Regions from separate parts of the Homo sapiens genome. Here region 1 is linked to region 2. Evidence: fine-mapped expression QTL. A gene starts in region 2. The other region holds a variant in brackets. All regions are shown on one strand. Distances are from middle to middle.

The links. PIP is the estimated chance that this variant, and not a neighbour inherited with it, causes the effect.
Region 1: its variant is fine-mapped to the expression of PEMT in whole blood (TOPMed, PIP above 0.99). The same link has a PIP of 0.9 or more in blood mononuclear cells and monocytes.

The regions. Positions count from the first base shown.
Region 1 is chr17:17,631,000-17,646,331 of GRCh38, reverse strand. No RefSeq gene overlaps it. Among named protein-coding and RNA genes, the nearest start is that of SMCR2, 39 kb to the left of the region's middle. The variant G/A (reference allele first, on the strand shown) is at 6,546.
Region 2 is chr17:17,583,458-17,598,789 of GRCh38, reverse strand. PEMT (phosphatidylethanolamine N-methyltransferase) reads left to right here and starts at 7,082. Exons shown (of 7, transcript NM_148172.3): 1 at 7,082-7,259. The coding sequence starts at 7,164. It also overlaps the pseudogene EEF1A1P43. RefSeq lists enhancers at 6,941-7,330, 6,896-7,637.

The sequences.
Region 1 (15,332 bases), 48 kb before region 2:
CACCATTGTAGCCATTTTAGAGTACAATTCAGTAGTTTGGGGGATATTCACGATGTTGTGCAACTGCCACTATCTAGTTCCAGAACCTTTTCATCACCCCAGAAGGAAACCTGAACCTCCCCATTTCCCCTGCCCAGCCCCTGGCAACCATGCATGTGCTCTCTGTCTTTGTGGGTTTGCCCATCCTGGACATTCCATATGAATGGACTCATATGTGCTGTTGTGTCTGCTGCTTTTGCTTAGGCAAATGTTTTTGAGATTCATCCATGTTGTAGCATGGATCAGGACATCATTCCTTTTTTGTTTGTTTTTGAGATGGAGTTTTGCTCTTGTTGCCCAGGCTAGAGTGCAGTGATGCGATCTTGGCTCACTGCAACCTCTGCCTCTTGGGTTCAAGTGATTCTCGTGCCTCAGCCTCCCAAGTAGCTGGGATTACAGATGCCACCACCATGCCTGGCTAATTTTTTGTATTTTTAGTAGAGACGGGGTTTCACCATGTTGGCCAGGCTGATCTCGAACTCCTGACAGCTCAGGTGATCCACCAGCCTCGGCCTCCTAAAGTGCTGGGATTACAAGCGTGAGCCACCAGGCCCGACCAACCTTGTTCCTTTTTTAAAAAACTGGCCAGGCGTGGTGGCTCATACCTGTAATCCCGGCCCTTTGGGATGTGAGGTGGGTGGATCACCTGAGGTCAGGAGTTCGAGACCAGCCTGGCCAACATGGTGAAACCCCCTCCCTACTAAAAATACAAAAAAATTAGCCAGGCCTGGTGGCACATGGCTGTAGTCCCAGCTACTTGGCTGGCTGAGGCAGGAGAACTGCTTGAATCTGGGAGGCGGAGGTTGCAGTGAGCTGAGATGGCATCATTGCACTCCAGCCTGGGCAACAAGAGCAAAACTCCATCTCAAAAATAAATAAATAAATAAGTAAAATAAAATGAACTTTATTCCTTTTCAAGGCTCAATAATATTCCACTGTATGGACATACCACATTCTATCTGCCTGTTCATCCGTTGATAGACACCTGGGTCGTTTCCATCTTTGGCTGTTAGGAATAATACTGCTATGGACACTCATGTACAAGTCTTCACGTGGATGTGTCCATTCTCCTGAGTATACACCTAGGAGTGGGATTGCTGGGTCATGTGGTCAGCCTATGTTTAGCTTTTTGAGGGATCAACACACTATCTTCCATAGTGGCTGCTATTTTACACATCCACCAGCAGCGCACGGGGGTTCTAGGTCCCCACATCTCTTCAACACATATTTCCCATTTGTTGGTAGTGACCATCAAGTGGTGTCTCACTGTGGCAGTTAATGCTTCCTTGTCTCTCAAAACTTCATGCCAGGGCCACCTCCTCCAGGGAGATTTCCCTGACACTCTGTTCTGGTTAGGGCACCCCCGGATTCCCACAGGCTCTGAGGCGTTGACCTGTCCCAGGAATAAGCATTCTTCTGCGGCTGTCTGCATACACACGTCCTCCATAAGATGCTGAGCTCACTGAGGGCACGGGGGCCCTGGGGCTGAGCTCAGCGTGAGCTGAATCAGCGATTGCATCCCTGGGCAGTGTTCATCAGCTGCCGTTCTGGTCAGACCTTCATTTGGGGTTTGGTGCCTGGGCACATCTGGGTTGGTGATTTTTGGTGGTGGGTGTTGTCTTGGAAGCCCACCTTGCTCCCATGTGTCCCAAAGGCCCCCACTTCCTCCCTGCCCCACATCCACTTCCCAGTGAGGCCTGAGCGGGGTGTGTGCATGTGCATCTTTGTCCCCAGGCCTACCCGAGCGAGGCTGGGCTTTCCAATGCTTACCCTTGGTCAGGGGCCCATCGTCAGGCCACTGGGGTTATGTTGGGGAGTGGGGTGGGCTTGGGATTGGGGGCTTGATCCTCCTGTCTTGAGTTCAGAGACCTGGGTCTGTGGCCTGCCTGGTTCTGAGTGACCAGGGACAAGTCACCTCCCTCCCCTGGCTCAGCCTTCTCACCTGTAAAGGGATCCACGGCCCTGTCTGTGCAGGTGCAGTGGGTGCCTGTGTTAGTCTGCCAGGGCTGCTGTAACAAAGCATCACAGACTGGGGGCCTCAACAGAACGTCACTCTCTCATGGTCTGGAGGCCGTGAGGCCAAGATCAAGGTGTTGGCAAGGAAGGGCCCTTCCTAGGAGTGTGCGGGAAGGCTCTATTCCAGGCCTCTCTCCTCAGCGTATCAGTGCCGTCTTCTCCCTGTGTCTCTTCACCTCATCAGAATTCCCTCTATGTGTGTGTGTGTCCAAATTTCCCCTTTTGATAAGGACATGGCTCGTACTGGATTAGGACCCATCCTACTGACATCATTTTAACTTAATGACCTTTGTAAAGACCCTATCACCAAATAAGGTTACAGTTGGCTCTCTGGTATCCAGGGATCAAACCAACCATGGATTGAAAATATTCGAGAAAAAAAAATTAATTTAAAATAACAACACAACAACAAAAATACAAATAAAATATAGTATACCAACTATTTATGTAGTATTTACATTGTATTAGACATTATAAGTAATCTAGAGATGATTTAAAGTACATGGGAGGATGCACTTAGGTTATATGCAAATACTATGTCATTTTATTTATTTATTTATTTATTTTCTTTGAGATGGCGCTTTGCTTTTGTTGCCCAGGCTGGAGTGCAATGGTGCGATCTTGGCTCACTGCAACTGCTGCCTCCCAGGTTCAAGCATTTCTCCTGCCTCAGCCTCCCGAGTAGCTGGGATTACAGGTGTGTGCCACTACACCCGGCTAATTTCTGTATTTTTAGTAGAGACGGGGTTTCACCATGTTGACCAGGCTGGCCTCAAAGTCCTGGCCTTAGGTGATCCACCCACCTCGGCCTCCCAAAGTGCTGGGATTACAGGCGTGAGCCACTGCGCCTGGCCACTATGCCATTTTATACACGGGACTTGAGCATCCTTGGATTTTTGGTATCTACTGTGAGGGTCCTGGAACAAATCCCTCGTGGATATCAAGGGACAACTACACTCTTGAGGTTCTGGGGGTTAGGACTTCAACATTAGAATTTTGGGGGATACCCAAGCATGGTAGCTCATACCTGAATTCTCAGTGTTTTGGGTGGCTGAGGCAGCAGGATCTCTTGATCCCAGGAATTTGAGACCAGCCTGGGCAATAAAGCAAGACCTTGTCTTTACCAAAAATAATTTTAAAAATTAGGTGGACACGGTGGTGCACGTCTGTAGACCCAGCTACTTGGGAGGCTGAGGAATGTCGCTTGAGCCCAGGAGTTCAAGGCTGCAGTGAGCTATGATCATGTCATTACACTCCAGCCTGGATAACAGAGGAAGACTCTGTCTCTTAAAAAAAAAAAAAGAAAAGAAAAAAGAAAAGAAAAAAGAATTTTAGGGGGATATCTCCCAAATTAACTATTTGCCCTTATCCCAGGCTCTGCTTCTGGAGGAGCCCAGTGGAGCCACTGCCCTACCTTGCTCTTCATCCCGGTGAGGATCAAGCCAGCAGATGCTGGCCACTGCTCCACGGCCATGGACTCAATACCCAACACAACAGACAAATCCCTGTCCTGTGGAGCTCATGGCCAGGTTGGGGGTGGGGGTGGGGCAGGCTGCAAACGTGCCATTGGTTTGGCTGAGGGTGGGCCTGGGGAGGCTACTTGAGCCCAGGGTGGTCAGAGAAGGCCTTACCAAGGAGGTAATATTTGAGCTGAGACCTGAATGGTGAGAAGATTCCAGCCATGGCAGGTGTCGGGAGAAGAGCACTTCCACTATCGGATACAGCAAAATGAAGCTGTCTCTGCCCCTCCCATCCTACTTCCCAACCACAAGCACTCAAGCCAGGAAGACCTGAGGAGCATGACTTCAGGGAGAAGAGCCAGATTCCTGTCCTGAGAGCAGTGATGGAGGCTGCTTAGTCTGGAGGAGAAAGTGGAGCTCCCTGGATCCTCCAAAGGGCTGTCAGAGGGCAGAAAGGTTGATGAGCTCTTCGTGGAAGTAGAGCAAGAGCCAAGAGTAGATGTTACACGGAGATAGCAAGAACTTTGTGATGAAGACACATGGAGAGTGAGACCCCCACCCTGGACGTATTTAAGCCCAAGCTGGATGATCTCTTGGCAGGATACCATAGAGGGGACCCAGAAAGTCTGGGTTCGCTGTCAGAAGCACCCAGACAGGGCCAGCCCTCTGATTTTCAGCTGTGGTAACAGTGGGCCTCCTCTCCTGCCCCTCTTATGAAGTCAAAGAAAACAACTCTGCCCTTGGCCTAGAATCACAACTGCCTGGGGACAGTTTCCCAAGGGCACATGGTAATTCCTGTACTGTCCTTGTCATCCGCCAGGTGGCACTGTTTGCCTGGTGTTGGGGCAGAATTGAACTCCCTTAAGCATTTTTAAACGACTGGTGAACTGGGGAGATACCAGTGTTGCAAGGACCCAGGAATGGCCAGAAGGTGCACTGCCCGAGTGTGGAAAATCCTTACAGACCCCGAGACATGCGCTAAGATGGTAGTGGGTATATGTGGCCTCATGAGAAGGGTCAGTGCAGACCAGAGGCCCCTCTCACCTCTGCCACCTTCCAGCTGTGTGACATTGAGCAAACCACCTCTCAGAGTCTCGGTTTTCTCCTCCATAAATCAAAGACTGGCCCCACCTTGAGATTTTGCCGAGATGATTAAAAACAATCCACGTGCCTGGCCCGGAGCAGGTCGCCAATAAAACATGGCAGCAGCCATCAGTGGTGTAGGAACTGTGGTGTAGGAACTAAGCTCTCAACGTCTAAATGGCCCCCCAAAGTCTCCAAGAGCCCCTTCTCTTATCTGAGGAAAGACAGGTGGACGTTCCTGCCCCTCTTAGTCCAATGATGGGAACTTTGATTGCCCTTGAGGGCCCTGGTGGCTCTCCAGGCTAGTGAGGCCTCTGCAAAGCATGGCTTTCTTCCTGTTGGCGACTTCCATTCAAGCAGATGCTCTCCAGACCCCAACTCCATAGAGAATCACCCTTTTGGAAAAAATGGTGCTCCTCTCCTCTTCATGGTTTGCCTTTTTTTTTTTTTTTTTTTTTGAGACAGGGTCCCGCTCTGTCACCCAGGATGGAGTGCAGTGGTGCGATCTCAGCTCACTGAGCTCACTCAGCTCACTCTGCCTCCTGGGTTCGAGTGATCCTCATGCCTCAGCCATTCACCTCCACGCCTGGCTAATTTTTTGTATTTTCAGTAGAGATGGGGTTTTGGGGTTTCGCCATGTTGGCGAGGCTGGTCTCGAACTCCTGAGCTCAAGTGATCTGTCTGCCTCAGCCTTCCAAAGTGCTGGGATTGCAGGGATGAGCCACCTCACCCGGCCTTATGGTTTGCTTTTCTTATTTGGTTTCTTGATAACAATTAATAGAGGTTCTTGAATCCCTCAAAAGTGTTCACTGTGGAATGTGAAGCTTTCTGTAGTTTCATTCCTGGTGCTAAGTGCTGGTAGAAATTTGTGTAGATTCCCTTGGGACTTTTTTTTGTTTGTTTTTTTGTTTTTTTGTTTTTGTTTTTTGAGATGGAGTCTCGCTCCGTCGCCCAGGCTGGAGTGCCGTGGTGCAATCTCGGCTCACTGCAAGCTCTGCCTCCTGAGTTCACGCCATTCTCCTGCCTCAGCCTCCCGAGTAACTGGGACTACAGGCACCCGCCACCACGCCTGGCTAACTTTTTGTATTTTTAGTAGAGACGGGGTTTCACCGTGTTAGCCAGGATGGTCTTGCTCTCCTGACCTCGTTATCTGCCTGCCTTGGCCTCCCAAAGTGCTGGGATTACAGGCATGAGCCACTGCACCCGGCCCCCTTGGGACTTTTTCTAAGCATATGCCTAAGCCCACATTCATGTAAAAGTTATTATTACTTTTGAAAAATGAAAAAATACTGGTTCCTCCATTCATTCATTCGTTGTGCATTCAACCTGTGTTTGGTGCTGTGAGCCCTAGGGTGCAGTGAAAAACAAGGCTCTTAAAACCCTGCCCTCAGTTGGCATTCCAGCTGGGAATGACATACACTCCATAAGCAGGAGCAGAGGAGGGCGCTGGTAAATTGGAGTAAAGGGTTAGCGAGTGTGTTTGTTTCCTGCTGTAATGAATTGCCACAAGTGAGAGAAATTTGCTCTCTCACAGTTCTGGAGGATAGAAGCCTGAAATCAGTGTCACTGTGCAGAAATCAAGGTGTCTGCAGGGCCGTGCTCCCTCTGCAGGGCTCTAGGGCAGACTTGTTCCTCGCCTCCTCCAGTTTCTGGCAGCTGCCGGCCTTCCTTGGCTTGTGGCCACATCACTGCCGTCTTCCAGGCCAGCATCTTTGGAGGTCTCTCCACTCCATCTGCACCCTGTCTTCTCTTCTGTGTGTGGTCATCACTCTGCCTCCTCATTCTTTTTTTTTTTTTTTTTTTGAGATGGAGTTCCACTCTTGTCACCCAGGCTGGAGTGCAGTGGTGCAATCTCAGCTCACTGCAACTTCTGCTTCCTGTGTTCAAGCGATTCTCCTGCCTCACCCTCCCCAGTGGCTGGGACCACAGGCACGTGCCACCACACCC[G/A]GCTAATTTTTTTTTTTTTTTTTTGAGATGAAGTCTCACTCTGTTGCCCAGGCTGGAGTGCAGTGGCGCCATCTCAGCTCACTGCAACCTCTGCCACTTGAGTTCAAGCAATTCTCCTGCCTCAGCCTCCCGAGTAGCTGGGACTACAGGTGTGTACCACCACGCCTGGCTAATTTTTGTATTTTTAGTAGAGATGGGGTTTCACCATATTGGCCAGGCTGGTCTCAAGCTCCTGACCTTGTGATCCACCCGCCTTGGCCTCCCAAAGTGCTGGGATTACAGGCGTGAGCCACCGTGCCCGGCCAATTTTTTGCATTTTTAGTAGAGACAGGGTTTCATCATGTTGGCCAGGCTGGTCTTGAACTCCTGACCTCAGGTGATCCTCCCACCTCAGCCTCCCAAAGTGCTGGGATTACAGGCGTGAGCCACCACCCATGGCCTGCTTCCCCATTCTTATAAAGACACTAGTGATGGCATTCAGGGCCCACCCCGATACCCCAGGACAATCTCCTCATCTCAGAATCCTCAGTCACACCTGATAGACCCACCCCGCTTTTTGCCATGTAAGAAAACTGTCTCAGTTTTTTGTTTCTATAAAACAAACTGGGTCATTTATAAACAATAGAGGTTTATATGCTTATGGTTCTGGAGGCTAGGGAGTCCAAGCGCATCACACTGGCATCTGGTGTGGGACTTCTCATGGCATCATTCCATGGCACAGGGCTTCACATGGGAGAGAGCAGAAGCTGTCAGCTCAGGTCTTTCGTCCTCTCCTTTTTTAAACAATTTGTTGGAGACAGGACTCACTCCATTGCTCAGGCTGGAGGGCAGCAATGTGATCACGGCTCACTGTAGCCTCCACCTCCCCAGGCTCAGGGAATCCTCTCACCTCATGCCTCCCGAGTAGCTGGGACTGCAGTACGTGTGGACGAAATCACCACACCCAGCTAATTTTTGTATTTTTTATAGAGATGAAGTTTCACTGCATTGCCCAGGCTGGTCTTAAAAACCTGGGCTCAAGCTATCCACCCACTCAGTCTCCCAAAGTGCTGGGATTACAGGCATGAGCCACCTCACCCAGCCTCTTCCTCTTCTTAGAAAGTCATCAGTCCCTTCCTGGGGGCCCTGCCCCAATGACCTCATCTAATCCCAACTACCTCCCAAAGGCACCACCTCCAATCAACATATGAATTTGGGGATTAAGTCTCCCACACATGAAATTTAGGAGACACATTCAAAACACAGTAGTCTGCCCTGGGCCCCAAAATGCATGTCCTCACATGCAAAATGTACTCATTCCATCCCCAAAGCCCCAAAGTCTTAACCTGCTCCAGCATCAACTCAAAAGTCTGCAGTCCAGAGTCTCATCTGAATGAGATATGGGTGAGACTGAAGGTACGATTCATCCTGCGATGAATTCCTTCCAGCTGTGACCCTGTGAGATCAAACAAGTTATCTCCTCCCAAAATACAGTGGTGGCACAGGCATTGGATAGACATTCCCATTCCAAAAAGCAGAAGTAGGCATGATGAAAGGGGCAGATGGTCCCAAAGAAGCCCAAACACAACAGGGTAGATATTGTATCTTTTTTGTTGTTGTCTGTCACCAGGCTAGAGTGCAGTGACATGATCTTGGCTCACTGCAACCTCCGCCTCCCGGGTTCAAGTGATTCTCCTGCCTCAGCCTCCCGAGTAGCTGGGACTACAGGTGTGCACCACCACGCCCAGCTAATTTTTGTATTTTTAGTAGAGACGGGGTTTCACCATGTTGGCCAGGATGGTCTCGATCTCTTGACCTTGTGATCTGCCAGCCTCGGCCTCCCCAAGTGCTGGGATTATAGGAGTGAGCCACCAAGCCTGGGCTAAACATCACACCTTAAGACTCCAGAATAATCCTTCACTCTGTGTTCCGCCTCCTGGACATACTGGGGTGGGGGGTGGGCCCCAAAGGCCTGGGGCAGCCTGGCTTCCATGGCTTTGCTGGGCCCAGCCCACACTTGAGCTCTCCCTGGCTGGCGTTGCACACTGGTAGCTGTACAGTTCTCGGGTCTTGGTGATGGTCTCACTGCCTCAGCTCCACCAGGCATTGCCTTCATGAGAGGCTTTTTGTGGTGTCTCCACCCCTGCAACAAATCCTGCTTGGGCTACAAGGCTGATACAGCCTTTGAACTAGGCAGAGGCTGCCATACTCACAGCTCTTGCTTTCTGTGAGCCTGTAGAATTAGCACCATGCAGATGCCACCAAGGCTATGGGCTTATATCTTCCAGAGCAGTGGGTCCAGCCACACCTGGGGCTGCTTGTGCCACAGCTGGGACAGTGGAGGAAACACTACATGAGAGCACGGACACTCTAGGGGGCCCTGGACAGCAAATCCATGAAGGGTGCCTGGCCTGTCCCCAAAACCATTCTTCCTTCCTAGGCCTCTGGGTCTGTGATGGGAGGGCCAGCTTGGAAGATCTTTGAAATGCTTCGGGGTCTTTCTTCCATTCTCTCATTTATTTATTTATTTATTTATTTATTTATTTTTTTGAGACAGAGTCTCACTCTTGTCGCCCAGGCCCGAGTGCAGTGGCATGATCTCAGCTCACTGCAACTTCCACCTCCCAGGTTCGAGCAATTCTCCTGCTTCAGCCTCCTGAGTAGCTAGGATTACAGGCGCACGCCACCATGTCTGGCTAATTTTTGTATTTTTAGTAAAGATGGGGTTTCACCATGTTGGCCAGGCTGGTCTCGAACTCCTGACCTCGTGATCCGCCCACGTCAGCCTCCCAAAGTGCTGGGATTACAGGCATGAACCACCGCACGCGACCTTTCTTCTATTCTCTTGCCGATCTTTCTCCCTGTACTAATTTCCTTAGCGAACAGTTGCTGGGCCACCCTTTTGGTTCCCTCTCCTGAACATGCCTCTTCTCTCTTTATGTGGCCAGGCTGAGAATTTTCCAAGACTTTCTGCTTTGCTTCCCTTTTGATTATAAATTTCATCTTTAAGTCATTTTCCCTCTTGCAGCTTAATGTAAGTAGCTGTGCAGCAGCCGGAACACTTTGCAGCTTAGATAGTTCTTTTGCCAGATATCCTAATGTATTGCTCTCAAATTCTGCATTCCATAGAGTCCCTGGCACAGACACAATCCAGCCAAGTTCTTGGCCAGTTTATAACAAGGACGGGCTTTACTCCAGTTTCCAATATCTTGTTCCTCCGTTCCATCTGAGACTTCATCAGAGTGGCCTTTATTCTCCACATTTCTATCTGCATTCTGGTCATGACCACTTAAGTAATCTCGCAGAGGTTCCAGACTTCCCCTAGTCTTCTTGTTTTCGAAGACCTCACCAGAATTGCCCTTAATGCTCTTTTTACAGCAATACAGGCTTTTCTAGCCTGCTTCTCCAAATTCTTCCAGCCCATTGGGTAATGCTACTCATTTCAAAGCTGCTTCTGTGTTTTTGGGTATTTGTTACTAGCAACACTTCTCAGTACCAATTTTCTGTCTAGTGTATTCTCTGTTGTTATAACAGAATATCACAGACTGGTAGTTTATAAGCAATAGAAGTTTATTTAGCTCATGGTTCTATAGGCTGGGGAGTCCAAGAGCATGGTGCCAACATCTGGTGAGGGCCTTCCTACAGCGTCAGGAAACGGCACAGTGTGTCACATGGCGAGAGGGCAAGAGTGTGCCAGCTCAAGTCTCTCTTCCTCTTCTTATAAAGCCACAAGTCCCATCATGGGGCCCCACCCTGACGCCCTCATCTAATCCTAATGACCTCCCAATGGCCCCACCTCCAATCAACATATGAATTTGGGGATTTTTTAAATCATTTTTTAGGGGGGCTAGAGATGGGGGGGTCTCACTATGTTGCCCAGGCTGGTCTTGAACTCTTGACCTCAAGCCATTCTCCCACCTCAGCCTCTCAAAGTGCTGGGATTATAGGCATAAGCCACCACACCCAGCTGGAATTAAGTATTTTTTTTTTTTTTTTTTGAGACACAGTCTCACTCTGTCGCCCAGGCTGGAGTGCAGTGGTACAAGCTCCGCCTCCTGGGCTCACGCCATTCTCCTGCCTCAGCCTCAGCCTTCTGAGTAGTTGGGACTACAGGCGCCCGCCACCACGCCCAGCTAATTTTTTGTATTTTTAGTAGAGACAGAGTTTCACTATGTTAGCCAGGATGGTCTTGATTTCCTGACCTCGTGATCCGCCTGCCTCGGCCTCCCACGATTAAGTTTTAACACGTGAAATCTGGGGAACATATTCAAACCATAGCAGAAACCTTCATGAGTTCCAGGATTAGGATATGAACATCTTTTGGGGAGCATTTTTCAGAGAGCATCCAAGGCAGGTGGAAATGCTATTTCAGGGACAGGGGCGCAGATACAGAAGCCTGGAGGAGGTGATGGAATGGCCGGGCAGGCCCCAGCCCCGTGCCTGACACATGGTGGGTGCTCACAGGCAAATGACATCACTGGTAAGTGAATGCATGAGCTGTTGGCAGATGGCTCTCTCTCTCAGCATGTGCCTGGCCAGGCGCAGTGGCTCATGCCTGTAGTTGCAGCACTTTGGGAGGCCAAGGTGGGAGGATCACTTGAGTTCAGGAGTTGAAACCAGCCTGGGCAAACTGGTAAAACCCTGTTTTTACAAAAAAATATAAAAAATTAGCCGGGCATGGTGGTGCCTGCCTGTAGTCCAAGCTACTCCGGAGGCTGAGGTGGAAGGATCACTTTGAGCCTGGGAAGCGGAGGTTGCAGTGAGCCAAGATTGTGCCACTGCACTCCAGCCTGGACAACAGAGTGAGATGCCGTCTCAAAAAAAAAAAAAAAGTGTGTGTGCCTCAGCTGGTGATCCAATACTGGCCAACGTCCCCAACAGCATGGCAAAGACAGTGGGGATGTGGTGCTGCTTTTGTTTTCCCAGCTGGAGCTGAGCATCTGATTGGGACCATCCCCAGCTCTGGGCAGACGCTAATGGTTGCTGGTGGCCTCACCGATCCTACACTGTCATCGGTGAATAAGGGTGGCCTTCAGCAAGTGTTCAGTGGCCAGGGCAGGAACATGAGACGTAGTATTGGCAGGGTCTGGTTTCTTACCTAGATCCCTGCCTCGTACTTGCTGTGTGACACCAGCAAAGACTGTTCTTTCTCTGGTCACTGAGGGCCAACCACCTCCGAGGCCAGGGGCTGGTCCTCGGGAGGATCTCAGCCTCTGCCTCCAGGCCTTTGCATCTGCTGTTCCCCTGCCTGACTTCTCTTCCCCGACAACTTTGCAAAGCGGGTGTCCTTGCCTCTAGATCTCAGTGTGACTGTCACCTCCTTAGAAAGGCCTTCCAAGGCCACCCTCCCTACAGTTGCTGCCTGGTATCTTTTTGTCCCACATTGCAGCTTAAAACACAAGGGCTCAGCTAGACGCAGTGGCTCACTCCTGTAATTTCAGCACTTTGGGAGGCTGAGGTAGGTAGATCACCTGAGGTCAGGGGTTTGATATCAGCCTGACCAACATGGTGAAACCCTCTCTCTACTAAACACAAAACATTAGCTGGGCATGGTGGTCCATGCCTGTAATCCCAGCTACTTAGGAGGCTGAGGCAGGAGAATCGCTTGAACCCGGGAGGTGGAGGTTGTAGTGAGCCGAGATTAACCCACTACACTCCAGCCTGGGCAATAAGAGCGAAACTCCATCTCAAACAAACAAACAAACAAACAAACAAACAAACCCAGAAGGGCTCGTTGCTCTCTGAGTGGTTTTGACTGTGTCTTGGCCCACATGTGGACCCTGCTCGCCTCATCCCCTGGGGAGTGCCTGGTGGCCGACACACAGTAGGCATTCAGACAGTATGTGTGGGGTCAGTGAAAGGAAGGAAGGGAAGATGGAGGAAGAGGGAGCAGGAGCGGGCAGGAATAGAGAGGGTTATACACACAGATGGGGGGGACAGAGCCAGGGCGCAGAATAGAAGATGTCTAAAAACACGCAGGGCAACTCAGGGCACCTGGGTTGAGATCTGAGGGGGACGTGCCCCTCGCAGGGAGGTCTGGCCTGTACTCGGGACCTACCGGGGATTGCTGAGGAAGTGAAGGGGCAGCCACTTCATCACTGGGCCCATCTTGGGGCTGGGACTGTGCCTGGGCATTGGGTCAGCACGGACAGAGGGGATGGTGGTCGTTTGGCTGAGGGCTCCTGGTGTGGAACTGACTGCCGGGGGCGGTCTGCAGGGGAAGATCCCAGGCAAGCAGAAGGTACAAGTCCAGGCTGGCCTGCTGGGGCATGTGGGCATGGCTACCCCATCAGTGAAATAGTCCATTCCTGTGGCTTCCTCCTAGGCTGTAAAGACATCCCCTACTGTGCTCCTTTCAGGCACTTTGAAGCTTGGCCCCATGACTACTGGGGTAGGGGAGAAACAGGCCTCTTCCCCTGCCAGAAGAGCCCTTCCTCCTCTGTTAGGGCCCTTCAGGGACCCAGGCAGGTCAAAGCGATGACGGGTCATAGGAAACTCGAAGGGGCCTGGCTGGAGCACCTCGTGCCAAAGAGCTGTCCTTTCACTTCTTCCTTGGGTGTTGGTGCAGGGGCTAAGTCCTGGCATGTTGCTATCACAGTGAGGCGTGAAGCTGGCTGGGCTTCTGGGTCGGGTGGGGACTTGGAGAACTTTTCTGTCTAGCTAAAGGATTGTAAATGCACCAATCAGCGCTCTGTGCCTAGCTAAAGGTTTGTAAACACACCAATCGGCACTCTGTAAAAACACACCAATGAGTGCTCTGTGTCTAGCTAACCAGGTGGGGACTTGGAGAACTTTCCTGTCTAAAGGATTGTAAATGTACCAATCAGTGCTCTGTGTCTAGCTAAAGGTTTGTAAACACACCAATCAGCACTCTGTAAAAATGCACCAATCAGCACACTGTAAAAATGCACTAATCAGCACTCTGTAAAATGGACCAATCAGCACTCTGTAAAATGGACCAATCAGCGTGCTGTAAAATGGACCAATCAGCAGGATGTGGGTGGGGCCAAATAAGGGAATAAAAGCTGGCCACCCGAGCCAGCAACGAAGATGCTCCCTGGTTCTGTTTTTTTGCTTTTGATGATGAATTTTGCTGCTGCTCAGTGTTTAGGTCCGCACTACCTTTTTGAGCTGTAACACTCACGACAAAGGTCTGTGGTTTCATTCCTGAAGCCAACAAGACCATGAACCCACTGCGAGGTAGGAACAACTCCGGACGTGCCATTTTTAAGAGCTGTAACACTCCAGTGGCAAAACTCTGCAGCTTCACTTCTGAAACCAGCAAGATCAGGAACCCACGGGGAGGAACAAAGAACTCCAGACGTGCCATCTTTAAGAGCTGTAACACTTAACTGCAAGGGTCTGCAGCTTCCCTCCTGAAGCCAGGGAGACCATGAATGCACGGGGAGGAACAAACAACACTGCACGTGCCACCTTTAAGCCATAACACCCACTGAGAAGGTCTGCGGCTTCACTCCTGAAGTCAGCAAGACCACGAACCCAGCAGCAGGCAGCAATTCTGGACACATCCAAACATCTGGAAGAACAAACTCTGGACACACCATTTTTAAGAACTGTGATACTCATGGGGAGGGTCCGTGGCTTCATTCTTGAAATCAGCAAGACCAAGAACCCACCGGAAGGAACCAATTCCAGACCCAACAGGTCCATGTGAGACAGTGCTCGTTTTATTTAATTGTAATGTGTTCTCCTGTATGTACTTCCTCCAGCCCTCTTCTCCTCTTCCTCCCCTGCCAAGGTTGCCGCCTTCTTTTTTCCTGAGATGGAGTCTTGCTGTGTCGCCCAGGCTGGAGTGTAGTGGTGAAATCTCAGATCACTGCAACCTCTGCTTCCCGAGTTCAAGTGATGCTCCTGCCTCAGCCTTCCCAGTAGCTGAGATTACAGGCATGCACCACCACACCTGGCAAAATTTTTTTTTTTAAGCTGGAGTCTTGCTCTGTCCTCCAGGCTGGAGTGCAGTGGCGTGACGTCGGCTCACTGCAAACTCCACCTCCCAGGTTCATGCCATTCTCATGCGTCAGACTCCTGAGTAGCTGGGACTACAGGTGCCCGCCACCACACCCAGCTAATTTTTTGTATTTTTAGTAGAGATGAGGTTTCTCCACGTTGATCAGGCTGGTCCGGAACTCCCAACCTCAGGTGATCTGCCTGCCTTTTGGCCTCCCAAAGTGCTGGGATTACAGGTGTGAGCCACCGCCCCCTGTTGTAATTTGTGTAGTTTTAGTAGAGACGGGGGTCTCACTGTGTTGGCCAGGCTGGTCTTGAACTTGTGACCTTGTGATCCACTTGTCTTGGTCTCCCAAAGTGCTGAGATAAAGGTGTGAGCCACTGTACCCAGCCCAAGGCTGCCTCTTAATGAGGCTGATATTTGTTCTTTAGCTGTGTGTCGAGCCTTACACAAGCACACATGTGGCTGCGTGGCTGTGGGCCAGTGTTATTCTGCAGCTCATGCTGTTTCTCATGACTCTGAGCATCATGATCTATCCCTGGAGCTGTGAGCACCCCGAATTCACTGCTTCTCACTGGCCTATGGAACCCCAAAAGGGGCACCCATCACATTCTCATTTACGTGGTGATGGGAATCTAGGTGGGCTCACAGCCTAGGGGGAAGGATGGTTTGGCTAAAGCCTGGTGATGGCTTACACGGTGGAACAGAAGGTGGACCCCGCCTCACATGATTGCGAATGTGGGTACTCAACCTGTATCAAGAGTAAAAAGGCAACCCACAGAATGGGAGAACATGTCTGTAAATTATGTCTTATAAGGGTCAGATATCCAGAATATATA
Region 2 (15,332 bases):
CCAAAGTGCTACGATTACAGGCATAAGCCACCGTGCCCAGCCTTTTTGCCTCCTTTTTTTTTTTTTTTTTTTTTTGAGGCGGAGTCTTGATCTGTCACCAGTCTGGAGTGCAGTGGCGCAATCTCAGCTGCAACCTCTGCCTCCCAGGCTCAAGTGATTCTCCTGCCTCAGCCTCCCAAGTAGCTGGGACTACAGGTGCATGCCACCACACCCAGCTAATTTTTTTGTATTTTTAGTAGAGATGGGTTTCATCATGTTGGCCAGGATGGTCTCCATCTCCTGACCTCGTGATTCGCCCACCTCAGCCTCCCAAAGTGCTGGGATTACAGGTGAGCCACTGCGCCCGGCCACCTTCATTTTTGAAGTATATTTTCATGGGACTTAAATTCAATTCTGACCTCCTTCATTCAGCAAATATTCACCCAGTGCCATCTGGGTGCCAGGTGTGTACTGGCTGCTGGCAGGGGATGTGGAGGTGGGCAGGGCAGACGATGAGGGGACCATTCTTGATCTCCAAGAAGAGAAGGGAAGAGTGTGCCTGGCAGAGTGAACAGGAGGTGCAAAGGCCCTGTGGCTGGAAGGAACCTCAAAGAGGCCAGTGTGGCTGGAGTACAGAGGGCAAGAAGAGCTGGGAAGGTGGATTGGGCCCGGACCATCCAGGACCTCAGGGCCATTGTAAGGAAGAATGTTTTGCCTTCATCAGACCACAGGTTTCAACTCTGACACTCAGCTGTGTGACTGTGGGCCAGTACCTTCCACATGAGTCAATTACCTCATCTGGAAAGTCAGAATAACATTCCCTACCTCACAGGGCTCTTGTGAGGCTTAAAGAAAATGTGTGCTTCAAGTGCTGAGCTCAGGGCCTGCAGCCAGCAAGAGCTCAGACAGATTAGCTATTGTTTCCATGTTTAGGTTTTTTTTTTGTTTTTTTGTTTGTTTTGTTTTGTTTTGTTTTCCGAGACAGGGTCTCACTCTGCTGCCCAGGCTGGAGTGTAGTGAGCCATCATGGCTCACTGCTGCCTCAACTTCCCGGGCTCAAGTGATCCTCCCACCTCAGCCTCTTGAGTAGCTGGGACTACAGGTGCACGCCACCATGCCTGGCTAATTTTTTTTTTTTTTCGTAGAGACAGGACTTCACCATGTTTCCCAGGCTGGTCTTGAACTACTAAGCTCAAGCAATCCACCCATCTTGGCCTCCCAAAATGTTGGGATTATAGGCGTGAGCCACCACACCCAGCCAGGAACTTTAATCTTTTTTTTTTTTTGAGACAGAGTTTCGCTTTTATTGCTCAGGCTGGAGTGCAATGGTATGGTCTCAGCTCACCGCAACCTTCGCCTCCCAGGTTCAAGTGATTCTCCCACCTCAGCCTCCCTTAGTAGCTGGGATTACAGGTGCCCCCCATCAAATCTGGCTAATTTTGTATTTTTAGTAGAGACGGAGTTTCACCATGTTGGCCAGGCTGGTCTCAAACTCCTGACCTTAGGTGATCCACCCGTCTTGGCCTCCCAAAGTGCTGGGATTACAGGCGTGAGCCACCACAACCGGCCGAACTTCAATCTTAATAGGTGGGTTTGGTCTCTTATTTAGGTAACAGACTTGGTCACCCTCCCCATTCCACAGACACGGTCACTGAGGCCCAGAAAAGTGGCTTTCCCAAGATCACCCAACTCAGAGTGGCAGAGCTACAGTATTCATTCACTCATTGTATATTCAATGCCTGCTTTGTGCCAGAGCTAGGTGCCCAGGACAGGGCTGTGTACAAACAGATAGAAATCCCTGCCCTCAGGACTGGGCATGGTGGCTCATGCCTGTAATCCCAGCACTTTGGGAGGCCAAGGCGGGCGGATCACCTGAAGTCAGGAGTTCGAGACCAGCCTGGCCAACATGGCAAAACCTCATCTCTACTAAAAGTACAAAAAAATTAGCAGGGCATGGTGGTGTGTACGTGTAATCCCAGCTACTTGGGAGGCTGAGGCAGGAGAATCACTTGAACCCGGGGTGGAGGGGAGGTTGCAGTGAGCTGAGATCATGCCACTGCACTCCAGCCTGGGTGACAGAGTGAGATTCCATCTCAAAAAAAAGACATCCCTGCCCTTAGCCGGGCATGGTGGCATGCACTTGTAGTCTCAGCTATTCCGGAGACTGAGTCAGGAGGATCGCTTGGGCCCAGGATTTTAAACCCAGGGGTCTCTTAAAAAAAAAAAAAAAAGCCAGGGGTGGTGGCTTATGCCTGTAATCCCAGCACTTTGGGAGGCTGAGGCAGGTGGATCACCTGATGTCAGGAGTTTGAGACCAGCCTGGCCAATATAGTGAAACCCTGTCTCTACTAAAAAATAGAAAAATTAGCTGGGTGTGGTGGTGCGCACCTGTAGTCCCAGCTACTCCAGAGGCTGAGGCAGGACAATTGCTGGAACCCGGGAGGCAGAGGTTGCAGTGAGCCGAGATCACGTCACTGCACTCTAGCCTGGGCGACAGAGCAAGACTCCGTCTCAAAAAACAAACAAACAAAAAATCTCTGCCCTGGTGAAGTTCCCCTTATAGGGGATAGGGGATGGACAGGGAATGACACTATACAAAATAAATAAGTGCACTAAATACATTTGTTAAATGATATGGCCAATGGAGAGAAATAAAGTTGGGAGAGGCCCATGGCGAGCATGGGGAAGTCAGCATGTTCAACAGGGTGGAGAGGTGGAACTTGAGCAGAACCCAGAGGAGGTGAGGAGGGTACTGGGAGGAAATGCGGGGAAGAGCAACCCAGGCGGAGGACATAGCACATGAAAATGCCCTGTGGTGGGTGTATACCTGGGGTGTTTAGGACCTCTGGAGGCCAGCTGGAAGGCAGGGGTTTGTGCTCTGTGGACACTGTGGACACTGAGGGGCAGTGAGGCCCTGCCAGCACCAACATCCTTGCTGGTGTTTCCCAGGCTGGCCTAGGCTGTGGACAACTGGGTTCAGGTAACTTCACTCCCGTGCCCTCTTCCCAGCAAGTAGTAGGTCCTTGGGGAAGGGGCTTCTTCCAAAGCTCAGGGCAGATGGGAGTGGGGAGGGAACTCGTGATCAGGGCACACATCTCCAGATGACCTCTCCCCTGCCCCAGTTCCCACCCTGGCTACCCTCTTGTTCCTGGAGCCACCAGGGGTAGAATGAGGGCAATCAGGCCTGAGTCTATGAAGTGGGTGCTGGGCATTGCGGCCACAGCCCCTCACCACCTTCCTGGTTTTAAAGCACTCCCAGTGACAATATGGTTTCTGATAACCTGCAGTACCTGCTGTCTGGGGAGCAGCTCTGGCCACCCATCCTGGCCCCTGCCCACCCATCTCCTCCCAGGAACTCTGGCAGGTCCCTGAGCTGTCAGCCAGCTCTCCTGGCCCCCAGTGGTGTCCTAAATCCCAGCAGCATGTCCATGAGTGTGACCTTAACCACCAGATCTCAATTATATAGAAAGGAGAGAAACATTTTTTTCTTTCTTTTTTTTTGGAGACAGGGTCTCACTCTCGTCACTTAGGCTGGAGTACAGTGGCACAATCACAGCTCCCTGAAGTCTCTCTCTCCTGGGCTCAAGTGATCCTGCCGCTTTAGTTTCCCGAGTAGCTGGGAGTACAGGCACGTGCACCACACCCGGCTAATTTTTTTTTGGTATTTTTTTTTGTAGAGATGGGGTTTTGCCATGTTGCCCAGGCTTGTCTCGAATTCCTGGGCTCATGCAATCTGCCTGCCTTGGCCTCCCAGAGTGCTGAGATTACAGGCATGAACCACTGCGCCTGGCCTGGACATTTTCTTAGAACCCACTGTATGCCAGGCACTTTTGTACGAGTTATTACCTCTAATCCTCACAACAGCCTCACTCGAGATATTATACTCAAGAGATATTCTATGATATAAATATTATTATGTTTTATGAACAGAAAATAGATTCAGAGTAGGGAAAGGTTTAGGTTTTACCCAAAGGCACCCAATAAACACATGTTAATTTTAGCACTAAAACCCCATTTTAATGATTGCTGGGAGTTTCTGCAGCCTGATTCATAATTCAGGAGCCAGGGAGGTGGGGTTAGAGAAAAGAGAGGCCATCAGGAGGTTTGCCCTGGGAGCTGTTCCATGATAAATGGTTTCCTATATCTGAAGAGCTCAATCAAGGGGCAAAGAGAGATAACCCTGAAGGTAGAAAGGAACTTTTGTTTGTTAAAGCTTCAGGAAGGGTGACTTTGGGTTAATGGGTATCATGACTTTGGGTTAATGGACCCCTGTCCATCAGTGGAGCGGGCGACCTCAAGAGGTGGGGAACCTCTCATCACTGGCGGCACGTAAGCAGAACCAACTTTTCCATTTGCCCAAGATGCCACAGAAGGAATGTTTCAGTGAGGGAGGTTGGCCTGGATAATTTCTCTACAAGCTCTCAGACTTGGGAACTTTTGAAAGGCTCAGGCAAGTACTTGTGCCCCAAAGTATCTTTGGCAGGGTTTTTTATTTTTATTTTTTTAGATGGAATCTCTGTCGCCCAGGCTGGAGTGCAGTGGTGCAATCTCGGCTCACTGCAACCTCCACCTCCCAGGTTCAAGTGATTCTCCTGCCTCAGCCTCCTTAGTAGCTAGGATCACAGGTGTGCACCACCATGCCTGGCTAATTTTTGTATTTTTAGTAGAGACGGGGTTTCACCATGCTGGCCAGGCTGGTCTCGAACTCCTGACCTCGTGATCTGCCCGCCTTGGCCTCCCAAAGTGCTGGGATTCCAGGCGTGAGCCACCATGCCCAGCCTGGCCCAGGCTGGAGTGCAGTGGCGCGATCTCGGCTCACTGCAGCCTCCACCTCCTGGGTTCAAGCAATTCTCCTGACTCAGCCTCCTGAGTAGCTGGGATTACAAGTGTGCACCACCATGCCTAGCTAATTTTTGTATTTTTAGTGGAGACGGGGTTTCACTGTGTTGGTCAGGCTGGTCTTGAACTCCTGACCTCATGATCCGCCTGCCTCGGCCTCCCAAAGTGCTGGGATTCCAGGTGTGAGCCAGGCAGGAGGTTTTTATCTGACTTGTTTCAAGCTGCAAGTCTGTCTCCTGGGTGGGGTGTTTGCTTTTCACAGAGGAAGGGTGGCCCAGGTTGGGTAGGCTGGAGTAGAGGATCGGACTGCATCAGTTCTGGTGTGACCTCTTACGGTTGCCTTACTTTGTTCTCAGATAAAGCAAACGCACAAAAATTTGTTTTCTGGGCTTAACAAAACAGGAGTGACCAGTTAGGTCAGAAGACTGGAACATCAGTGAAGTGGATGTGTGGTAGGCGGAGGGGAAAGACTTGCTAGAAGCCCTCCCGCTGCGGGGGGCTCCTTCAGAAATGGCTCTGCCTCTAGCAGCTCTGCCTGGACACTGAGCAGGGAAAGGGTCCCGACACTCATTAGTAACAGTGGTAAGTCAGAGAACCAGCCCTGAGCCTGTGTCCCCAGCCCTGCCGGGGGCCAATGCCTACTGAGCACTTCCCACAGGCCAGTTCCTGGGTGATGAGTTTTACCAACATGTATTTCCCTTTTACTTTTGAGGAAAATGAAGGTGGGCTCAGTCACAGAGATAGTGCATGCTCCAAAGCCAGTGTCTTTCCTGTCTCCTCGGTTGGCCTGCCCCATCCTAGCGATGTTGTGAAGATTGGGACTACCTCTAAAGCAGCACACAGTGGCTGCTCAGTAAATGCTCAACACTGGTAGGTGCTGTGGGCCAAGGTGGAGAGAAACGGGCCATCTGGAGCAGGAAGCAGCTGACTGCAGAAGTCCTGTCTGGGCCCCCAGCAGTCTGGGTGACTGAGCAAATCTTGGAACCTCTCAGTCTATTTCCCCATATTACATAACACCTGGCTACAAAAGGGCTTTTTTCTTTTTTGAGAGGGAGTCTCGCTCTGTCGCGCAGGCTGGCATGCAATGGCACCATCTCCGCTCACTGCAACCTCCACCTCCTGGGTTCAAGCGATTCTCCTGCCTCAGCCTCCTGAGTAGCTGGGATTACAGGTGCGCGCACCACACCCGGCTATTTTTTGTATTTTTAATAGAGACGGGGTTTCACCGTGTTAGTCACGCTGGTCTCGAACTGCCGACCTCTGGTGATCCGCCCACCTCGGCCTCCCAAAGTGCTGGGATTACAGGCATGAGCCACCACACCCGGCCTACAAAAGGGGTTCTTCTGGGACCCGATCGTCTAAACTCTTCTCCATTTGACCCCCTCCATCACTACTCCACAGCTCACCGGTCTTTTCTCTGTTCCTTAGGTGCCCGTCCTGTCTCCAGGCCTTTGTACATACCATTCGTCTTGCCTTGTTTGCCCTGCCCTCACACTTGGCACATCTGGCACCTCCCCTGCACATTCTAAGACAGCATCCTTCCGTACCATTTGACCCACCCCGTTTTTTCCACCACAGTACTCATCCATATTATAACCCTTTATTCACATTTTGTCTTTTATCTCAGTCAGGAGGAAGCGAGGGCGGGGGACTCTGTGTTGTTCCCTACCGTACCCTCAGCGCACAGTCTGGTTCAGAAAATACTCGAGAGTGAATGAGAGAATGAATGAAGGAAAAAATGAGTGGAGGAGGGGTCTTTGGCCGAGCTAAAGAGCCTGGGCGCCGCGGGGGCGGGAAGCTCTAGGCAGTGCTCGTCGCGCACCGCCCCCAGAGTAAAGCGAATTTCAGAAGAGGGCGTGGGGCCCTGGGCGTGTGGGGCCCTGGGCGTGTGTGACCCGGGCCAAGTCCAAGTCCGCAGGAGGCTGCGCGGGAAGCTGCTTATAGCTACGACCCGCGGCCCCCGGCCTCTAGCCCCACCGCCGCCAGGCAAGGGCAGGGACGCCAGGTCAGTTACAGGCTCGGGTGCGGCAGCCGGCGACCAAAGGCACTGGGCGGGAGGCCGGATCCAAGGGGATACTGCTACGTAGCTGCAGCGGAACCGGCAGGCTCTGCGGCGAAACACACTGGGACTTGTAGTTCTCGGCTCCTCTAGACGCTGTCGCGAGCCCCCAGATAAAGAGGCACTTCGCGGTGACGGGGAACTACATTTCCCAGAAGGCCGGAATATGTTGGGGGTCACCGGGAAAGCGCCCCGACTGGCGGCACTTACCCGGCTCTATAGGTCCGGTTCCGGGGGCGCGTGGCTGCAGCGGGGCCCGCGTGGTGCCTCCTGAGGCGGCCCCCGGATGAAGAGATCTGGGAACCCGGGAGCCGAGGTAACGAACAGCTCGGTGGCAGGGCCTGACTGCTGCGGAGGCCTCGGCAATATTGATTTTAGACAGGTACTGACCGCACCGGACCGCCGCGGAAACTGGGAGAGGGATCTGCAAGGCCCGAGGGGCGTGAAGGCTTGCGGCGCCTCAAACGCTGCGGGGCGGGGCCGCCAGTTCCCAGGCAATGGGGGCGTGGCGTGGCGGGGGTGGGGGAGCCGCGTGCGGGAGCGCCGGCTGGTGTCTGTGTGTGTGCGTGTGCGCGCGCGTGTAAACCTCAGATTGCGTGTGTCAGAGACGGGGGCGTTCCTGAGCTCGTCTGATTGTGTGCCTGTGTGTGGCCCTGAGATTGTGTGAGACTCAGAGGTTGTCCGTGTTAGTCTTTGGGATTGTGTCTCACTGAAATTATGTGATGCTCTGAGAGTGTGCCGGAGAGTGAGTGTGAGTGTGTATGACCGAGGCTGTGTGTGACTGAGCGTGGGCGAGGGTGAAGGAGGCCGATTATATGTTTGGGAGTGTGTTGTGTGGCCCCTGCTCCCGTCCATCCCCCAGGGTCAGGAGGCCAGCTTTTGCCCAGAGGCAAGAGAGTGGTGGGGACCCTGCCTGTCTCCCAGCCGGCCCTGGGCAGGCTGCAGACCACCACCCAGCCGTTTCGGGGCCATAATGGGTGCGACCGGCCCCAGAAGCTGGGGGCCTGGCTTGCCTGCTGAGGCTGCCCTCTGCAGAGTCCTAGGCCAGAGAGTGCCTGTCCTGGCATCTCCCCAGGCTCCCAATTCCAATGGATTCCAATTTCCAACCTCTCTTGCATTCTCCCTTCTATCAAAGCTTCCTCTTAGATGCTCCATTTACCTTTTTCATCACCCACTCTTCATGAAGCCTGTAAGGCACATCTCTGCCCCAAGCAGCTTCTAATCCAGTTCTTTCGCTCCCTTCATTCCTTACTCACATGTGCATTTATTCACTCACTGATCCAGCCAGTATTGATTCAGGGCCGGCTGAGGGCCTCGTGTCACTCAGAAGTTTAAGGGCACTTCTGTCACTGAGCTTTCATTCTAGGGAGGGAGATTGTAGGCCTGGAAAGCCAGAGAGTTCTCTGAAGGAGCTAATACCAGTTAGTGTTTTGAAGAGTAGCTGATGGGAAGGCGGGATTGAAATCCCAAGAGAGCCTGTTGCCGTATCTGCGAGGGAGGGACCTGGGATCTGAGAGCCGAAAGGTCAGTCAGTGGGGCAAGATTCCCCAGAGGAGGGAGGCAGTTGCGAAGCCCTCCAGGAGGCACAGGAGGAGATGGGCCGCTGGCCCTGAGGGAGCGCAGGACCGTTGGCCAGATGGGTGCTCAGCAGAGGACAGGAAGAAGACTATTACTTTAGTAAACTGTCCATTGAATTACAACATGCAGTCAGATGAGTGATGGGTCCTACCCCTACAGCTCCTGCATTTTCACCAGGTGAACCTGTATCTGTTAATCCTCAGATCAAGATGGGGGGTCATGATCACCTCCAGGGGCTGCCCTCAGAAGCCACCGTGTAGAAGGGTGGGTGGGGGAGCCATGTAGAAGGGGGGGCAGAATGCAAGGGGGCAGTGTCCCTTTGCAGACCCATCTAGGGGCCTGCCCCAGGGCCTGCCAGTGGGCAGGGGAGACTAACCGGGTGTGTGAGGGGTGGGCTTCTCTGCTCTTTCTCCTTTCTCCCCAGGGCTGTGCAGCTGGAGAGAGCTGGGGCTGGGGTTCGGGTCAGGGTGACCCTTGTTGACTAACATTCTGCTTTTCTTCTGCTGTCCTTGTTGGTGCAGTTAAGCTTCCTGTTGCCAAGGGATTTTTCTTAAAGAAAGAAAGAAAGAAACATACAACATACAACATTACATATTTGCTTATGTGGTAGCTCTACTCCCTCCTCAATCAAAATCTCCGGTTTTAAAATATGTCAGTCCCTGGCCTGGGAGAGTTGCAAGGTTTTTGTTCACCCCATGGGCGTCTGAGCTGCAGGATCTCCGGTGCTAGCCCTGTGCTGCTGTGCTGTCCAGTAGAAACATCGTGTGCCACATGCATAATTTAAACCTTTCTAGTAGCCATGTTAAATTAGTGAGAAGAAATGGAAAATAGCAAAGAAATAGAAAAATAATTTTGACAATATATTTTATTGTTACCAAAATATATATCAGACATATTTTGTCCTGTGGCATTCCAAGCTTGTGGCACTGCCTGTGACCAGTGGCTGCCATGTCATACCAAACAGTGCTGCTCTGGGTACCATGCCCTCCACCAGCTCTTTTCTGGGCCTGCTTCAGCAGGTACAGAATCTTGCTTTTGTTTTTAAAAAAAAAAAAAAAAAAATCAGCTGTTGGGGCTGGGCACGGTGGCTCACGCCTGTAATCCCAGCACTCTGGGAGGCCAAAGCAGGTGGATCACCTGAGGTCGGGAGTTTGAGACCAGCCTGACCAACATGGAGAAATCCCATCTCTACTAAAAATATAAAAAGTTAGCCAGGCGTGGCGGCACATGCCTGTAATCCCAGCTACTCGGGAGGCTGAGGCAGGAGAATCACTTGAACCCCGTAGGTGGAGGTTGCAGTGAGCTGATATCACGCCATTGCACTCCAGCCTGGGCTAGAAGAGCGAAACTCTGTCTCAAAACAAAAACAAACAACCCAAAGAATCAGCCATTGGGCTGAGGAGTTAGGGTGAGGAGTGTGCCCGCTGCAGCCCCACTGACTAAGGCCCTTTTGCTCCTTGTTGCCCTCCCTGTCAGGATTCTGGAGCCTTGCTCCTCAGCTGGGCAGCTGCCTGAAGGCAGTGGGGTGGCAGATGGATGAGAGCAGGGTCTGCATCTTGCTGTCCACAGGCCGGGGCACCTCCAGGATTCAGAAGATGACTCCAGTAGGGCCTAGGGGTGCGGGCACCCAGGCTGGCAGAGCACACTGAGGTCCTCAGAGCAAGGGCACATGCCCAGGTCTCAGGTCCCTTTTCCATAGCGAATCACCTGCTCACCAGAGCGGGTGAGTGATGATGTCTCCAGCTTGGTGTTGGTGTCAAGAAGAATGGGGACAGTGAGGGGGTTATGGTGAAGACCAGAATGAGATGAGGGGTGTAAAGCTTTATGAAGTATCGAGTGCAGCCCACCTAAGGGTGGTCCTCAAGAAGGCAAAGCCCTTGTATTCAGAAGGCTGAGAGACCTGGGGCAGGGGACACAGGTCCCTGTGTGTAATATGGGCACCCGAGTAAGACCCTGGAGGCAAAGCTCCGATGGCCGATGCGGGGTATCTTGACTGCCTTTCAGGGAAAAATGTTTGCCTTTATCCAAAATCGTTTCCAAAAATCTTTTGATTGTATTACTTTAGTTGAAATAAACATTAGGCCGTTATATTAGATGAGTTACTCTGTGGTGTTTTCAAGGCCGTACATTTTGTCTTCAGTAATTTTGGCATCAGCCAAGACAGAGCAGGGTTGAGGCTTTCCGTGGCTGCTCATCAAAACAATGACAGAAACTCTTGGAGCTTGTTTCCCCTGCCTCTGTTGAGATGACACTGTTTTTCCTCATTAAGCTGTAAATATGAATTCCATTGATGTTTTGAATGTTGAACTAGCTCTGGATTCCTGGGGTGATCTCTGGCTGGTCCTAACATATTATCCTTTGTATATATTGCTGGATTTGATTTGCTCTAATTTTTGGGGGGATCTTCTTTCTTTATCTGGTTTCATTTGATTTAATTAATTTATTTATTTTAAGACAGAGTCTCGCTCTGTTGCTCAGGCATGTACTCAGGAATGCAGTGGCGTGATACCAGCTCATTGCAACCTCCGCCTCCCGAGTTCAAGCAATTCCCCCACCTCAGGCTCCCGAGTAGCTGGGATTACAGGTGCACCTACCACCACACCTGGTTTTTGTTTTGTTTTGTTTTGTTTTTTGTATTTTTAGTAGCGACAGGGTTGTTGGCCAGGCTGGTCTCAAACTCCTGACCTTAAGTGATCCACCCACCTTGGCCTCCCAAAATGCTGGGATTACAGGCGGTGAGCCACTGCACCCGGCCTGGTTTTAGTGTTAGGGTAATACAGTGAGTTGGGAAGTATTGCCTCCCTCTTCCATATTCTGGAAGAGATTGTGTGGAATTGGAATTATTTTTTCCTTAAATGTTAGGCAGAATTCATCCAGGAAACCATCTGGGCTCAAGGCTTTCTTTTTTTAGGTTTTTAAGCCATAAATTCAAATCCTTTAAAAGATAAAGGATTATTTCTTGAATGAATTTTGACAGTTGTGTCTTGCAAGGATCGGTTCATTTCATCTAAGTTACTTAATTTGTGTTATTCATAGTATTCCCTTATTATTACTTTAATGTTTGTGAGGTCAGTAGAGAAGTCCCCCCTTTTATTTCTGATATTGATATTTTGTGTCTTTTCTCTTTTTTTCTTGGTCAGGCTGGCTGGAGGTTTCTCAGTTTTATTGGGAAAATAAATTTTCCCCAAAGAACCAGCTTTGGGTGTAATTTTTTTTTCTCTATTGTTTTCCTGTTTTCAATTTGATTGATTTTTGCTTATCTTTAATTTTTTGTCCTGCCTCCTTTGGGTTTAACTCATTCCTCTTTCTCTAATTTCTTTCTTTCTTTTTTTGAGACGGAGTCTTCCTCTGTTGCCCAGGCTGGAATGCAGTGGTGCAATCTCGGCTCACTGCAACCTCCGTCTCCCGGGTTCAAGCAATTCTCCTGCCTCAGCCTCCCAAGTAGCTAGGATTACAGGCGCCCTCCACCACGCCTGGTTAATTTTTGTATATTTAGTAGAGATGGGGTTTCACCATGTTGGCCGGGCTGGTCTTGAACTCCTGACCTCAAGTAATCTGCCTGCTTCAGCCTCCCAAAGTACTGGGATTATAGGCATGAGCCACTGCGCCCAGCCACTCTTTCTGTAATTTCTTAAGGGCAAAGCTTATATTCCTGACCTGGGACTTTTCTTCCTTACTAATAGAAGCCCTGCCTTAGCCGCATCCCACAGGGTTTCATGTGTTCTATTCTCATTTTCATTCAGTTCAAAATGTTTCTAGATTTCCCAAGACTTCCCATTTGGCCCTCGCGTGCATTCTTTCCACGATCGCTTTCTGTGACTGATTTCGAGTTTAATTCTGTGGTGGTTTGGGAGCATACTGTGTATGCTTTCTATTCGTTTAAATTTAAGGTTTGTTTGGTGGCCCCAAGTGTGATCTGTTTTGGTGACACCAGAGACTGCAGGCTGTTCCCAAGGCTGCCATGTGCTGTGGTCAGGTCCAGCCACTGGATGGCGCTGCTCAGGTCAGCTGCGTCCTCCCGATTTTCCACCTGCGTTTTTTTTTTTCTTTCTTTCTTTCTTTCTTTCTTTCTTTCTTTCTTTCTTTCTTTCTTTCTTTCTTTCTTTCTTTCTTTCTTTTTCTTTCTTTCTTTCTTTCCTTCCTTCTTTTTCTTTTTCTTTCTTTCTTTTTCTCTTTCTTTTTCTTTCTTTCTTTCTCATTAGATTTTTTTTAATGGGTCTCAAAAATCTGTGACAATTTTTTTTTTTTTTTTGAGACGGAGTCTCGCTCTGTCGCCCAGGCTGAAGTGCAGTGGCGCCATCTTGGGTCACTGCAAGCTCCACCTCCCGGGTTCACGCCATTCTCCTGCTTCAGCCTCCCGAGTAGCTGGGACTACAGGCGCCTGCCACCACGCCCAGCTAATTTTTTTAATTTTTTAGTAGAGACGGGGTTTCACCGTGTTAGCCAGGATGATCTCGATCTCCTGACTTCATGATACGCCCGCCTCAGCCTCTCAAAGTGCTGGGATTACAGGCATGACTCACCGCGCCCGGCCCGACAAATTTTTGGTCAAGTTGTTTCCATTCAAAAGTACTGATTTTAAAAACTAATAACTTAAAACTGCCACAGGCAAAAAAGAAAACCAAAGTGGTCCACAAAACATTTTCCTTTCCTTCTAAAGGTTTTATGATGCATTGTTATCATTAACCAGTCTTTTACTACTAAATTTAAATGGTCAATTGAAACAAACAGTTCTGAGACGTTCTTCACCACTGATTAAGAGCGGGGTGGCAGGTATTAGGGATAATATTCATTTAGCCTTCTGAGCTTTCTGGGCAGACTTGGTGACCTTGCCAGCTCCAGCAGCCTTCTTGTCCACTGCTTTGATTCTCTCAGTCACTGAGAGGACCATGGAGGGCCCTAACAAGAACTGTGGATTTGTCTTTTCCACCCTTTAGTTCTGTCAGCTTTTGCTTCATACCTCACCTCACTTCTTTTTGTTGTTGTTGTTTGTTTTTGAGATGGATTCTCGCTCTGTCGCCCAGGCTGGAGTGCAGTGGCATGACCTCAGCTCACTGCAACCTCCGCCTCCCAGGTTCATGCGATTCTCCTGCCTCAGCCTCCAGAGTAGCTGGGATTACAGGCGCCTGCCACCACGCCCGGCTAATTTTTGTATGTTTAGTGGAGACGGGGTTTCACCATATCGGCTAGGCTAGTCTTGAACTCCTGACCTCAGGTGATCCACCTGTCTTGGCCTCCCAAAGTGCTGGGATTACAGGCGTGAGCCACCGCGCCTGGCCACTCACCTCAGTTCTTAATCTGAAGAGTGGGCATGCCTCGCAGGGTTGTCACCAGGACTCGATGACACAGTTGTCACAGCCAGCGTCTGTCTAGCCATGCCCCCCGCCAGGCACTGCGCTGAGTGCTTTCCTTGCACTTTCTCATTTAATCCTCCTGGCGTCCCATGGCACCTCTACCATTCCCACCTCCCAGGCTAGGAAGCGGTGCTCAGCGAGGGGAGATGGCTGCCCGCCGTGGCACGGGCGTCCTTGTCTCATCAGCACTCTGTTCTGCCTCCTGCAAGTCCCTTGCCAGAGCTTGGCAGCTGGTTCACTTCCGAGTGAAGGTTGGCTGGCTTATTGTTACTATTGTCTTCAAAATACAATGTGTATTTACACAGAGACACAGTAGCACCTAGCAGGTTCTGTCCTGGGCCCTGGAAGGTAAAGGTAAAGAAAAGGAAGATGGCTGGGCTTGGTGGCTCACACTTGTAGTTTCAGTACTTTGGGAGGAGGCCGAGGTGGGAGACTCACTTGAGCCCAGGAGTTCCAGACCAAACTGGGCAATGTGGTGAGACTCCATGTCTACAAAATAAAAAAAAATTAGCCAGGTTTGGGCCGGGTGCGGTGGCTCACGCCTGTAATCCCTCGGCACTTTGGGAGGCCGAGGCAGGCGGATCATGAGGTCAGGAGATCGAGACCATCCTGGCTAACACGGTGAAACCCTGTCTCTACTAAAAATACAAAAAAATAGCTGGGCATGGTGGCGGGCGCCTGTAGTCCCAGCTACTTAGGAGGCTGAGGCAGGAGAATGGCGTGAACCCGGGAGGTGGAGCTTGCAGTGAGCAGAGATCGCGCCACTGTACTCCAGCCTGGGTGATAGAGTGAGACTCCATCTCAAAAAAAAAGGAAAGAAAAAAGAAAATGGGGTGAAGCTCACAACCAGCAGAGGAGTGAGAAGAGGCAGCCCAGCGTGGAGGCGAGCAGGGCCTTGAGAAGCACCGTCTTACCCGTGGGCCCCACACCCACCCCTGCTGGAGCACGTGAGCTGTCAGTGCCTTTTGAGTTTGGTGCAGGTCACACTTGTTAATTGAAGAATGAATGACATTTCACCCTCCTGAAAGGAGTTATGGATCTAGGGAACTGGAGCAGCTGCCTGCCATTTCGTTTTACTGTGGGATCTAGAGACCACAGTCGCATTGTGACATTCTAACTTCCACCCCTCCTGCCATGAGGTGGTTTTTGCTGCCCAGGGCTTGCCTGACCTCAGATTCCAGCATCGGGGTCTTCCCAGGAGGGTCCCTCCAGAGAGTGAATGGTGAGAGAGGGACCTGTATTAGTTGACATTAAGCAGACAGAGTAGAGGGGCCGCCAGCCTCGGCCCTGAGTGGGCCCTGTACTTTTACATCTGTTCTTGCTTCTGTGCAGAAGGTAACCTCAGGTGGCCTGTCTCATCACCCCCATTCCACTCAAGGGAAACCTGGGCTTAGATTGGTCATGGGAGGCTTGCCATGGTCCCTCACGGTGGGTGGTGAAGCTCCCAGCTCAGACAGTGGCTGCCAAAGGCCAGAGTCCTCTGAGCCAGGTGGCCTCTTATGTGGAAAAACAGGGTTAGGGGG